2 linked regions of the Homo sapiens genome follow. The protein of the gene in region 2 binds, or shares a complex with, the protein of the main gene of each other region. Each region holds a gene or a part of one and is shown on either strand. Other genes may lie near its edges.

The links. Proteins that work in one complex are often made in the same cells at the same time.
Region 1: DRC1 (region 2) and DRC5 share a complex: the UniProt entries of both Homo sapiens proteins name them as parts of the nexin-dynein regulatory complex.

Annotation. Positions count from the first base shown.
Region 1 is NC_000006.12:44,287,698-44,294,723, forward strand, and holds part of DRC5 (dynein regulatory complex subunit 5), read right to left. Parts: intron 5,121-7,026; exon of another isoform or gene 4,781-5,120; intron 222-4,780; 5' UTR 129-221; coding exon 1-128. UniProt on the Homo sapiens protein: Component of the nexin-dynein regulatory complex (N-DRC) a key regulator of ciliary/flagellar motility which maintains the alignment and integrity of the distal axoneme and regulates microtubule sliding in motile axonemes.
Region 2 is NC_000002.12:26,439,908-26,446,933, reverse strand, and holds part of DRC1 (dynein regulatory complex protein 1), read right to left. Parts: intron 6,557-7,026; coding exon 6,417-6,556; intron 2,713-6,416; coding exon 2,578-2,712; intron 2,219-2,577; coding exon 1,986-2,218; intron 1-1,985. UniProt on the Homo sapiens protein: Component of the nexin-dynein regulatory complex (N-DRC) a key regulator of ciliary/flagellar motility which maintains the alignment and integrity of the distal axoneme and regulates microtubule sliding in motile axonemes.

The DNA.
Region 1 (7,026 bases), on a different chromosome or scaffold from region 2:
GTGATTGAAGGCTTTGAGAGCTGTGGGCTTGTGCTTGAAGTGTGTCCTCCAGTGGAGGAATTGTCCTGGGTGGAGACTGAGGAGTGGCTGGGGTCCAACAATGCTGATGTCGTTACGGTATCCTGCATGCTGGAGGCTGGCAAGGTAGGGGTGCGTGGCCCCTGGATGGCCTTATGACAAGAAGCTTCTCAGACTGGCAGGTCCTTGAAACAGGTAGGGATCTGGAGCAAAAGGAAGAGGGTAGAGGTGTTACTTTGGTGGGTCTTGGTGGGCATTTACTAAGAGAGGTGGTACAGAATAGTGCTTAACGATCAGTCCCTGGAGTGAAGCAGATCCAAGTTATCTGTGTGGCCTTGGGCAAGTTACTGAACCTCTCTGAATTTCAGATGTTGCCTCTGAGAAATGAAGGTCGCAGTTCCAGTAGGATTATTTGGAGGAGTGGATAAAATAATGCATCCAAAGGGCATAATATAGTATCTGACACATGAAACTAGCAAGGAGCAGCCCCAAATTTTAGATAATAGCTCTACAGCAATTACAGTAATTGCTCTGTGCCAGACAATCTTTTTAGTTCTTTATGCCTATTAATTCATGTGTCCTCAGAAAAGCCTTTTTCAGAAAAGGCTTTTTCAGATAGGTGCTTGTATTATTCCCATTTTTCTGCTGGGAAACTGAAGCAGAGAGGCTAATTGACTTGCCCAATGTCATGCAGCTTAGAAGTATCACGGGTGGGTTTAAATTCAGTCTGTCAAATTCATGCTCTGAACCCTACATTGGACCGGCCCTCTGAGGGTGAGGGGTGTATATTGCCAAAAGACACAGATATAATAAAGAGCCATTCAGCTCATAACAGGACCCTGCACTAAGTATTTCATAGAACAGCAACTGCCTGATCCGTAGGATGGGGTTGAGAACAGCTCTGGCCAACAGAAATATAATGCAAGCCAAAATGCAAGCCACATATGCTATTTTAACTTCTTTAGTGCCCACATTTTAAAAAGTAAAGAGAAACAAGGCTGGGCGTGGTGGCTCATGCCTGTAATCCCAGCACTTTGGGAGGCCAACGTGGGTGGGTCCCTTGAGGTCAGGAGTTTGAGACCAGCCTGGCCAACATGGTGAAATCCTGTCTCTACTAAAAATACACAGATTAGCTGGGCAGGGTGGCAGGCACCTGTAGTCCCAGCTACTCGGAAGGCTGAGGCATGACAATCAGTTAAACCTGGGATGCAGAGGTTGCAGTGAGCCAAGACTGTGCTACTGCCCTCCAGCCTGGGTGATAGAGCAAGACTCTGTCTCAAAAAAAAAAAAAAAAAAAAAAAAAAAAAGAAAAACAGGTGAAATTAGCTTTTTTTTTTTTTTTTTTTTGTCTTGCTCTTGTTGCCCAGGCTGGAGTGCAATGGCGCGATTTTGGGTCACTGCAACCTCCACCTCCAGGGTTCAAGTGATTCTCCTGTCTCAGCCTCCCGATTACAGGGATTACAGGCGCCTGCCACCACCCCCAGCTAATTTTTGTATTTTTAGTAGAGACGGGGTTTCACCATGTTGGCCAGGCTGGTCTTGAACTCCTGACCTCAGGTGATCCACCCACCTCAGCCTTCCAAAGTGCTGGGATTACAGGCGTGAACCACTGTGCCTGACCATGAAATTAATTTTATATTTAGCCCAGTATGTCTAAAATGTTATTTAAACATATAATCAATATAAAATTATTAATGCGACATTTTATATACTATGTTTTCATATGAGGTCTTCAAAATTTGATGGCTCAATGGGCACATTGAGCCTACCGTTTCAATGTGGCTACTGTTTCAGAGAGTGCAGGTTGAGAGAGAAAGGAGAGGGGAACAAGACCCATGCCCTGCCCAAGGTGCCAGCACCCTTCTCTCCTCCTTCCCACTGAGAGCTCAAACTCCAGGTCCCTTCCCTTCCATCTCCCCATCCAGTCTTCCTCTAGCTCTCCCAGCCTCCCAGCATTCCAGACAGCAGTGGGCAAGCGTGGGAGGCGAGAAGACAGCTAAATCTGGGGCTGAAGACAGAAGATAGAGGATGTGTCTTGGTCCGGGGACCCTCCCCCATTTGCCCATTCCTGCACCCTTGCACTCCTGCCCTGAGATCTGCTGGAGGAAAGCCCAAATGGGGCTGCTGGCACCTAGTTCCTCCTCCAGGCAGTTTCCCATCAGATGTGCACCCTCACGACTCAGTGCACTGGGTAGTGGCCGGTGGGAGGGAACACTCTGAACCAGCAAAGGCGTCCTTGGCAGAGGGAGGGACCAGATGGTGCTTCCCAGCCTGCCAGGCATCTCAAGGAGGAAAAGCCTGGTTGAGAGGCGGGTGGCAGGGAGAGAGATAGTGCGGGAAAGATATCTAGGTATTGTGACATCCCCTATGCAAATCAAATGCAAATTCACACACAGATTGTGTCCAGAATTGTGGAATAACCAGATAGTGCTTTTTGACTAATGGCATCTCAGAGTGTAGGGCTGGAGGGGGTTGCTGCTTAGTGGTACCGGCTGACTTTGCATTTCTGGCTTTGTCAGTTATGTGCTTTGTGACCTTGGCCAAGTTACTTAACCTATCTGAGCTTCAGTTTCCTTATCTGAGAAACTGGATAATAATATCTTCCTACATGGGCTGTAGTGGAGATCCCCCTGAGATAATGGTCGGTTAATATTGATCATTGTAAAGCATACAGGGTGTGTGGAGAGTGAAGGTACTATGAGGGGCAGGGGTCTGAGGCTGCAGAGACCACATCCAGGAGACCTGCTTCTTGAGTGCTGACCTGAGATGGTATCTTTGGGTGAGTGCAAAGTTTCTGAGGCCCTTCCCTATTTCCAGGAGTGATGTGAAGGGCAAGGAGGCAGGGTGGTGTTGGGGGCTCATAGACAGTACGACAGAGGCAAAGGAGGAAGGTCAGAGGCAACAGGCCAGCCCAACTCCTGCTTGGTTTTGGCCTAAAACATTCTATAATTTCCCTTGGTCCCAGATATGTCCCTGGACACCCATGGGCCACACCCAGGGAGCAGGACCAGGCTTGGCAGGGGGAGCCCCAGGTTGCTGGTGTGCATTGCCCTGGAGTTGACTCTTTAGTCATTCCTCACAGCACCATCCAGCTTCACCATACTGGCAGGCAGTCCCTTCTCCTTCTTCTCCTGGGGAGCCACACCTGGGAAACCCCACCTGGGGCCAGGTGGGATGCCTCTGCAATCAGGTGACTCTAGTCCCACCGTCTAGCACCTCACTTTCAGGACCTGGAGTTCTTCCTACGATCTGGTCCTAATTGGTCTTGCTGCTGTTTTGTGCCTGCAGCCTGCCTCTGGGCATGACACAGCAGGACCCATCGGGGCATGTTCCAGGGCCCTGAACCAACTTCTCAGAAGGAAGGGGCAGGGCCTCGCTCCATATCACATGGCTGCCGTGTGCATGGCTGGTATAAAAATGAGCCCCTACTACCTTCAGCCTTTATAGGAACATCCATACCATAAGGCCTGATGTCATTTTAAGGCAAATGTTGAAAAAATTAATTGCATAAGATCAGAGTTGATAATTTTCAGTTAATCATCTCTTGATTTTTTAAAAATGGATATCACAAAAATATTTTGGCAGGCAAATTATTACCAGACACACAAGATTCTTCTAAGGAGGATTTTAGTTCTAAGTGTTTAAAAAAATCTACTTTTTAAACTAACAACATAGAAAACAAAGTATATTTAAAAGGATAACGAGCAAAACTAACTCCTTGCTGCCCCGCTGTCACTGTTATGAGGATGTGGAGTATGGCTCCTCCCTTGGCAGGTTGCCTTCTGACCCCTGCCCTTGGGGGACACCCTTTGGCGTGCCACTCTCTTGGCTCTCCTCCTACTTTCCGACCATTCTTTTTCCAAAAGTCTTCACCACAGACTTCTCTCCCTCTGCCCATCTCTCACGTGCCAAGGTCCCTCAGAATTCCGCCATGGTCGTCCACTCATTCCTTCTGATGGGTTCTAGCTTTCACCTCTTCCAGGTGGGGTTTCCCAGCTGTGACATCCCAGGAGAAGCAGAGGGTACTGTTACCAGGATGGTGAGGCTAGGGGGTGGTGGTGTAATGCCAGACTCTCCTACATCTGCATTCCAGACTCAAGTCCACTGGGATGCTGCCTAGGTCCCTCAAACTCAATCCATCCAGATGCCGGCACCAGAAACCAGGGAGTCACCTCTCTCTCTTTCAGCCCTCCCGCCCCACCCCACCATCTAGTTACTGATTCAGTTTTGTCTCCCACCCAGGCAGCCTCTCCTTTCCTGCTGCTGCCTTAGCTCAGGGCCCCAGTGTCTGTCTGGATCACAGCTTCAGCTGTTAGGCATGTGGTCTCTGGCATCCAGTCTGGTTCTCTCACATCTAGCCTTCACACAGCCGCTGTGGCAGGCTCCATGTAAGCCCTCTAGCAGCTCACCACTGCTCACTGGGTAAAATCCAGCCTCCTCACCTTGGTGTGTAAGGCCCTCCGTGGCTGGACACCTTGTTGGAAATAAGCTCCTCTTTGCATCTGGGACATTGCAGCCCAGTTCATGCTGCCCAGCCCTTGCTCAAGTTGTTCCCTCTGAAATGCCTTTCCCACCACCTCAGCCAGGGAAAGGGACAATCACTGGTCTTCTGAGTCTGAGCTCAAGCACCACTTCCTCTCTGAAGGCAAGGTGCTTCTTTGTCCCTGATACCCCAAAACAACCCCTCCCGTTGTCAGACCCCATCTTTCCAGTACCTGCATCACTCCAGTAACCTGACTGCCCACCCGTTCCCCACACCCACACTAGACTGTGAGCTTCTTGAGGTGTAGGGGCTGTCTCCTCCTCATTTTTGTCTCCAATTTCTAGCCCAGTGGTAGGTCTGCTTTAGGCGAGGTAGCTGGTGTTTGGGGCGGCTCCACTGGCTTCTGATAATAGATTCTGGCCAAAAGGAGTGTCTATTGGTCAGGGCAACTTGTTGGGGGGTGGCTATCTGATATAAGCCAATCGGAGTCCTTCTTGAGATTTGTCCAAGTGGAGGGAGACAGAAGGACATATGTCCTTGAAGGATCTGGATCTCCTGCTGCTGGAAGTCATTTCTCTCCACACGTACAAGGTCTGTTTGCGGTGGGAGGGAATCAAGCCTGGGGGAGACCAGCAGAAACGATAGATAGACAGAGACAGCATCCTGGTATCTTCAATCCCCATGCCTAGTTCTGGAGGCTCCCAGAGCTGTCTGGCTCTTTGGCAGTGCCTTCAGCTCTGAGAGCTAACTTGGCAGCCTTCTAATAAGTCCCTTTGCCAAAGCTAAGAGTTGGGTTTCTACTCCTTTTGACCAAAAGGTCCTGCCCCATTTTGACCAAAAGGCTCACAGTTTGGTGAGTGAAAATATGGGAAAAATCCTCAATCAGTAGATGAAAGAGTTCAATGGGATAGCTGAGAATGGCCAAAGGCCCCCAGGTTATTACTCACAGGACCTGATTCACTCCTGTGGCCTCTTCCTCTCTTGACTACATTGAGCCTCTAGTCTCACATCCCATCTCTCCAGGGCTGGGACAGTATCAGCACCTTACAACTGTCCAGCACTTAACAGTTACAAGGTCCTTTCAAGGTCCTTTCAGAACTATCCTCTCAAAAAAAAAAAAAAAAAAAAAAAAGTCTGGGTGTGGTGGCTCACACCTGTAATCCTAGAACTTTGGGAGGCCAAGGTGGGAGGATTGCTTGAGGCTAAGAATTCAAGACCAACCTGGCCAACATAGTGAGATGCCGTCTCTAAAAAATAAAAAAAATCTTCTCATGTGACTCTTCAACCACCCTATAATGGAGCTAGGATGGGCTTTCTTATCCCCATTTTACAGATGAAGAAACAAGGAAACAGGAAATGACTGGCCCTAAAACACCTATGAGAGCTGGGGCCAGCGTCTGAGGGCAGGTCTCCTACCTCTAGCCACAATACACTACCCCTCCACAGTCACTCAGTATGTCCCCCTCCCCTCACTGTTCCTGCCCTCCACTAGGCAAGAAGAAAGCATATTCTTGCTCCTTGGGAAGTGGGGAGGGCCTCCCCGGGCTAAGTGCGCTCCCAGGCCTTTGGCACTCCACTAGGGGAATTTCACGGCCCTAATGTACAGTCTTCATCCCTGTTAGGGTAAATGCATTTTCCCCCTAAATGAAACAAAATTTAATATCAATACTTGTATGCCTATATCCATATGTTAACCTTGAACTGCTTTTTAAAAACATATCTCATCATTTTAGGTCAAACAAAAGCATAGTAAATCATAAAATGTATACTGACACTAATGTAGCAAACTTTTTTTTTTTTTGAGACAGAGTTTCGCTCTTGTTGCCCAGGCTGGAGTGCCATGGCGCAATCTCAGCTCACCGCAACCTCTGCATCCTGGGTTCAAGTGATTCTCCTGTCTCAGCCTCCCGAATAGCTGGGATTACAGGCATGCACCACCACGGCTGGCTAATTTTGTATTTTTAGTAGAGACGGGGTTTCTCCATATTGGTCAGGCTGGTCTTGAACTCTCGACCTCAGGTGATCTGCCCGCCTTGGCCTCCCAAAGCGCTGAGATTACAGGCGTGAGCCACTGCACCCAGCCTAATGTAGCAAACTTTTTAAAAAGTAGAAGTTGTAATATATTGTTTCTGACAGTTTAAGTGTGCAGAAATTACATATATAATACACATGACTACATATAAGATATCAGGATATATGTATTCCACACCTTAGTGTGAATGAGTTTCAGATACAAAAAGCAAAGTTAGAAAAGGGGCAAGGGAGGCGGGATATGGTGGCTCATGCCTGTAGTCTTAGCACTTTGGGAGGTCGAGGAGGGTGGATTACCTGAGGTCAAGAGTTCAAGACCAGCCTGATCAACATGGTGAAACCCCGTCTCTACTAAAAATACAAAAATTAGCCAGGCATGGTGGCACATGCCTGTAATCCCAGCTACTTGAGAGGCTGAAAGAGGTGGTTTATAAGATAATTAGGGGAAAAAAATGAAGGTTGAACCCAGGAGGCAGAGGTTGCAGTGAGCTGAG
Region 2 (7,026 bases):
TTTTAGTAGAGACAGGTTTTCGCCATGTTGGCCAGGCTGGTCTCGAATTCCTGACCTCAGGTGATCTGCGCGCCTTGGCCTCCCAAAGTGCTGGGATTACAGGGGTGAGCCATCGCACCTGGCTCCAGGTGACTTTAAAATATAGCAATCTGTCTGTACATCCCTGGAGGGACACATTTTAAGAATAAAAGGAACCATAAAACAGTGTAAACTGTCTTTAGTAATCATTTGTTGGTGGCAGGGCTGATATTTTCCTCTGAGGCAGTTCTGTGGTGCTGTGGGGAAGGCATGTGATTCATTATTTTGAAGTCACTGAGCACTAAGATTTTAAAGTTGGAAGAAAGGGGATACACTTTGATACTGTTAAATAAAAATCCTGGCATCCTGTTGATGAGGAGGTATTAGAATGAACTCATGATTTATTTTATTACCAAAAAAAAGAAATCCTATACTCTCAGCTCTGTCCACTGAAAAGGCCTAGAAACAATGGCCAATCCAAAACAATAAGCACCCAGCGCCCACAGCGTGGTTTCTAAATACCATTCCCTGGGCATGCATGGTGACACAAGCCTGTAATCCCAGCACTCTGGGAAGGAATCGCTTGAGCCCAGGATTTGAGACCAGCCTGGGCAACATGGCAAATCCATGTCTCTACAAAAAAATACAAAAATTAGCTGGGCATTGTGGCATGAGTCTTTGGTCCCAGCTACTCGGGAGGCAGAGGTGGGAGGATTGCTGAAGCCTTGGCGGCAGAGGTTGCAGTGAGCCGAGATCCCACCACTGCCCTCCAGCCTGGGCGACAGAGTGAGACCATCTCAAAAAAAAAAAAAAAAAAAAAATTCCCTATTTGAAAGGACCAGGGGATCCTTGGAGAAATGGCTGATTCCAGACAAGAGGCAGGAAAAGTATAATGTGTGCCTTGAACACCTGGTCATCCTGGAGAGCCAGGACGCTGTTAAAAAAAACTACTAGGGCTAGCCAAGCGTGGTGGCTCACACTTGTAATTCCAGCCTTTTGGGAGGCTGAGTTGGGGGGATCACGGGCTCAGGAGATGGAGACCATCCTGGCCAATATGGTGAAACCCTGTCTCTACTAAAAATAAACAAAATTAGCCAGGTGTGGCAGTGCGCACCTGTAGTCCCAGCTCCTCGGGAGGCTGAGGCAGGGGAATTGCTTGAACCCGGGAGGCGGAGGTTGCAGTGAGCCCAGATCGCGCCACTGCAATCCAGCCTGGCAACAGAGCGAGACTCTGTCTCAAAAATAAATAAATAAATAAATAAATAACTACTAGGGCTGAATCAAAAGGACCCAGAAGCCAATATGAAGATTTCCACTAGCCAAAGATGGAACAATTTGAGCCTCAATAAGGATAATTACTTTAGTAAACTAAAATACATCAAATTTGTTTAAACTCATGCATTCATAATATTTTTTAAAAACTCATTGGTACCTTTGGAAGATGCTAGAGGCCCAACCCATTATTTTGAAAACTGGTAAACAGAGAAAAAATAAGCATCTATCCTGCTTTTCATATACAGACTATCTCAGGGTAGCAAATTGCTGAGGAAGGGAAGATTTTCTTTTAAGAAGTATTCTGTTAAATAAAGACACAAGAACAGAATCTAACATATCACCATTTTGCAATCCCTAATACAGTTAATGGATCTTAGACAATGATTAGCAATGGTTGCTAACATCACAAAAAGGGAGACAATTTAACATTAGTTTATCCCGATGGAGGTACTACACAATAGTGTACTTAGCAAAAATAAATTGGACCTGCATCTGATCAAGCTTCTAGACCTAACTGCCAGTTTATAATACAGGAGAGAGAGCAAAGCTATAAATTAGAGGAGACTTAAAAGCGATACCAATAATCATACTCTTCCCCCTCCTCCCTAGACTATCTCTAACGTGACTGGCTTGACCCGATGTTCTCAGGGGGCTCCTCCAGCTCTAAGGCTCTATGACAGTGTTCTAGTCACCTGAGCGCATAAGCATTTCTTCTACTATCTGTGTGGCGGACTTCTGGGGCTGCTGAGAAATAGGCCCAACATTGTTCAGGAACCAGAAATCAGGTGCTGCCCAGGGAAGCCCCAGATGATGGGTGTGGATGATCCTGTCCACATCAAAGGCTCTGGCTATTAGGTCCTTCGCCTCCTCTTCATTCATCAGCCAAATCTCCCAAAACTTCTCATCATCAATAAGAGCAAAATGCCTGTGAAGGAGAGTCACAGAGCATGGCCAGCTGGCCCCAGGACCTGGCCAGGGTCCCCTCAAATAGCAGCAGGGCAGGAATATGAAAAGGAGCTGTGCTAATTCCTGGGCCTGGCCCCATCCCTGGGCGGCTGATTCCCACTTACGATAAACTGGAAGCCATCCCAACACATCTCAAGAAAAGGCAGGTGACACGCAAGTGAAGGGCCAGGGGAACACACCACAAAAGGTTAACTAGTGCCTGGTCCAGCCCCAGAATAGCTGGTGACATCAAGTCCAACGAAATCACAGCTTGTACAAACTCCATCCCCGTCACCTCTATGCTAGGACAAGTGCCTTAGGACCAAGTCCTTAAGATACCTCATGGCTTTCTGTAGCTCCTTGAATTGCATCACAAGACGTTTGTAGTCCGAGGTTAGAGACTGGTTCTCCTCCTGAAACTGCTTTATTTGCTTGGCATATTTTGATCTCAGATTGTTAAGTATATCATGCAGGCTGGTTGAAGGAGAAAAAGGTTAGTCTGCAGCTGAATAGAAGGTATTATGTATGTTCCTCTCATCCACCTGATTCAGCTCTACCACAAACCCAGGAGCAGATCTGTGGAAGAGCAGAAAACCCTCCCATATATTCCAAAACACAGATCCCATTTTGATCAACAAAAGGAAGGCAACAGGAGATCTTGGGACAGTCCAAAACGAAACGCATTGAAAACAATCCAGAGCCCATTCCCACCAAGAGGCAGCCTCCTACTCAAGACTGTGGACAGAACCTACTTCACAATACATCATTTGTCAGAATGCCCATACCCATACCTAGGGCCAGCCTCACATATTTAAATAATCTATCTCAACGATTTCATTGTCATGACTTGGATGTTTAATTCAATCATGAAGCAAGAAAATTTTAAAGAAAAAAAATGCATATCACAAAAGCCTATGATACATAAATCTTCCAGCCTCAAAGAGCTGATACCGTTAACAGGTCCAGTAACTCATTCATTCATTCATTTATTCACTCATCCACGTATTCATTAAACAAACATGAAATGCCACTTTTGCGCAAGGATATGTTGAAAGACAAAGATGAATACAAAGATACGTTTCAATACAAGGTACTATCAGTCTAGTCAAAAACAAAGACAAACGTTAATTACAGTACAGCGTGGAAAGTGCTATAGGAGAGTTTTATGCAGGGTGCCAGGGGAGCCCAGAGGTGAGGCATCTAACTTACCCAGGCTTGCAGGGGAGGGGGTGGTCCAAAATTTCCAGAATAGCAAGAGGCAGTTAAAACCTGTCCAATAGCACTGTGAATCCAGGCACGGCACAGCTCACCATCTCACTGCTAACAGGAGCTCTGTGCATGGAAACTCGGCCCATAAAATATGCATGGCAGGCGCAATGTTTAGACCCAGGCCCATACTTCAGACTTCAAACTACTACAGAGGTGGCTCTTATCAGTGCCCCATTCACACAGTAACAGAGAAGCTGAAGGCCAACATATTTTAAGTTTAGAAATTCTAAAAATAAGATTTTCCCTCTCCTAAGCATTATTCTGAAATGATCAAAATGTCTCTCAAATGCAAACATTCATCATTCATATTTTCATCATCAAGAAAATGCAAAAAAAGTCGTTACCTTAGTCTCTGATAGAAAGAAACAGCTAACCCATTTCCTTAACTACAGCCTTCAAGGAGGCTTTCCAAGCACAGATGTAAAAATAAGTAGTCATTCCAAAGTGTTTTTTCCCAATGTCATGCAGTAAAGGAGTTCCTATGTGTCATCTAATTACCGAAGCTAACAAAACAAACTCCAGGTGCATACTGAAGGTCTGGGCAAGATAGCAGGCGAGGAAGTGAACAGGGAAGAATGGCTGCAAGAGGAAGCTCAACAAAAAAAGTCCAGAGTTCTTAGTGCCTGGAAGCTAGAGATGCAGGGGAGTGAGGCTGGAGAACTGGAAACAGGGAGCAGAGGCAAGTCTGGTTTCAGAAACTGTGCCCTGGAAATGACAGGGCCTCTCCAAGCTGAACTGTTACGTTGGCAGTTCCAGGTAAATGAAAGGTGAGCTCAGGATTGGGGATATGAGGTTGGCAGTCATCAACAAAAAGGGGATATTCAAAACCATGAGACTGAGGTATGTGGCAGATGAAATAAAAATTAAAAGCAATGGTAAGGCCTGGATTTTCTAGATTGTCTTATCTAGATACTCAAGACATATCAAGCAAGGAAAAGCAGAACCACCAAAGGAAACAAATACATTAAGAAAGAAGAGCAAATATTTTAGGGTCATTTAAACCAAAGAAGAAAATCCAGTATCCAATCATAATAGATGAGGCCTGAGGAGAAGCCACTGCGCTTGGCTAGAAGGGCATCATCAGTATCCTACTGTGGGAAGTTTTTGTCCAATCCTGGGGTCATAGGTTGCTACGGCTTGAATGTAACTCCTCCAAAATTCAGTGTTGTCAATGTGATAATATTAAGAGGCAGGACCTTTAAGAGGTAATGAGGCCATAAGGCCTCCTCCATCATGAATGGGATTATGGGATTAAGGCCTTTATAAAAGAGGCCTCCCAAAGCCTTAGGCCAGCTTGCTCTCCCGCTCTTCTACTGTGTGAGGACACAGCATCCCTCCCCTCTGAAAGATGCAGCCCTCACTAGAAACTAAACCTGCCAGCCTTGATCTTGGCCTTCCCAGACTCCAGAACTGTGAGAAATAAACTTTTGCCTTTGTAAATTATCCAGTCTCAGGTAGTCTGTTAGAGCAGCACAAACAGATATGTCAAATTGTGAAATGCTGGGTGGTGGTGAGCAGGAAAGGAAAATGGCAATGAAAGCAAGAGACGAAAAGATGGTGCTTAGAAACAGCAGGGTCCGTTGAAGGGTTTTTCAGGCTGAGGGAAAGCTGTCTGAGTTTGAAATAAGAGGGAAGATTCCACTCATCTCTCAGCCACACGCATCAAACCCAAGCTCTGCCTCAAGCGCCTCCTCCCGCCTCCTACCTTACCCATTCTCTTCACCCACTGTGTGACTTTCTGAATCCTACCTCCTTGCCTTCAGACCAGCCATTCCCAGCTGCCAGCACTGTCCACCTGGAGTCTCCTCTTAACTGCTTTTTGCCAATTCATGTCCCCACCCCCTCCAGTATTTCACTTCTTTGGGAAGCTTTCCCAGGTGCCTCCTCACTGTATTGATGTGTGCCTTTCTTGGATGTTCTGCTATCTAGTACGGTGCATATATAGTGGGAATTTTTTCATAAATATTGTCCCCTGTCTATTCTTATTTCTCAGATAATCAGGCTTAAGATGCCATCCCATTTATTCAGTATCATTTTCTGTAATAAGTAACTACCAAAAGGTCAACTGATGTTCCTCTATACATTCAACATGTGTCCAAAATGTATGTATTACCAACCTACAAGTGGAATTAATTCCTAAATAATAATAGGCTATTTGGGGTTTGGAGGGAAATCCCCAATCTTGTCTCCTTCCACAAGCAAGAAGTCTTATTTCACTCTGGTCCTCAGAGCCTAGCACAATGGTCTGAAACTTAGAATGCAATTCTTAAAGGAAGAAAGGCAGGAAGGATAGGAGTAAGGAGATGAGGAAGAAGGGAAGGATGTATGAGAAATTTCAAGCAATAGGTACCTTTCAGTGAGCCACGGTATCTCCACAAAAGCAAACTGGCACATGTCATGAGTACTTAGGTTGGTATTATTTGCAAGAGGAAAAGGTTGGAAGCAATCTACATGTCCATCATTAGAGACTGGTCAAATAAATCATAGTGCATCTATGCAGTGGGTAGTAAGCAGCTTAAGAAACTGTGAAAGCTCTCTATGAACTGGGATGGAAAGGCCTTCAAGATATACAGGAGTGTGTACAGACTGCCATCATTTATGTAAAAGCAGATGGGGGATGAGAATATTTGTGTGGGCTTGTATATGCCTAATGAAATTCTGGAAGAGACAAACAAATAATGGTTACAGAGGTAGGAAAGAGGAACAAGATGAATGGGGACGGAAGATCTTTTGCTATGTACTCTTTTCTTGGGGAGAGATTGAATGTATTAACTTTTCCAAAAAACTATTTTAATAAGTGTTGGTTATATTTTTAATGGTTTCTACCCCTTCAATAGAAAAAAGTACATATCCATCCCTATTCTCAGCACAGAAGGCCCAGAAGAAAGACGCTCTGCATGCTAGCTTACCGATTGATCTTCCTCTTCTGCTGGGATTTAATTACTGTGCTTTCTTCATCTCTCTTCTTCAGCACCTGCAAGTTGTACTCTAATTTCTCTTGGTTTAGCTGATAAATTGCTTTCCTCTGCTGAAGCTGCTGCTCAAGAATCTAAAGTTAAAAAAACTATATATATATATATACACACACACACACACACACACACACAAACACACTAACTCTACACCTGCATCCTTAGTATTATATACACTAGAGTATTTAAAATGTCTTTTGGGGAACATGCTTTATATAGGTAAATATTTACATAGACATACTTATATAATCCTGTTTATGTCTGTTTATTTACCTAGCTATGCATAGCCATATTCAGATGTATTCATCTTTGTACCTATATTCATAAAGAATAAAGAGGTAAAAGTATTGGTAGAAATTTATACTGGAAGTAATATAAAAAGAAACTTTCCTACATTTATAAACTTATCTGCTCTGTGAATTATATCTAAAATTGTATGCAAATAAAGGTATGCTCTGAAACACAAATATATATATGTGTGTATATATATATGTGTGTGTGTGTGTATGTGTGTGTGTATATATATATATATTCACACACTAGTTGG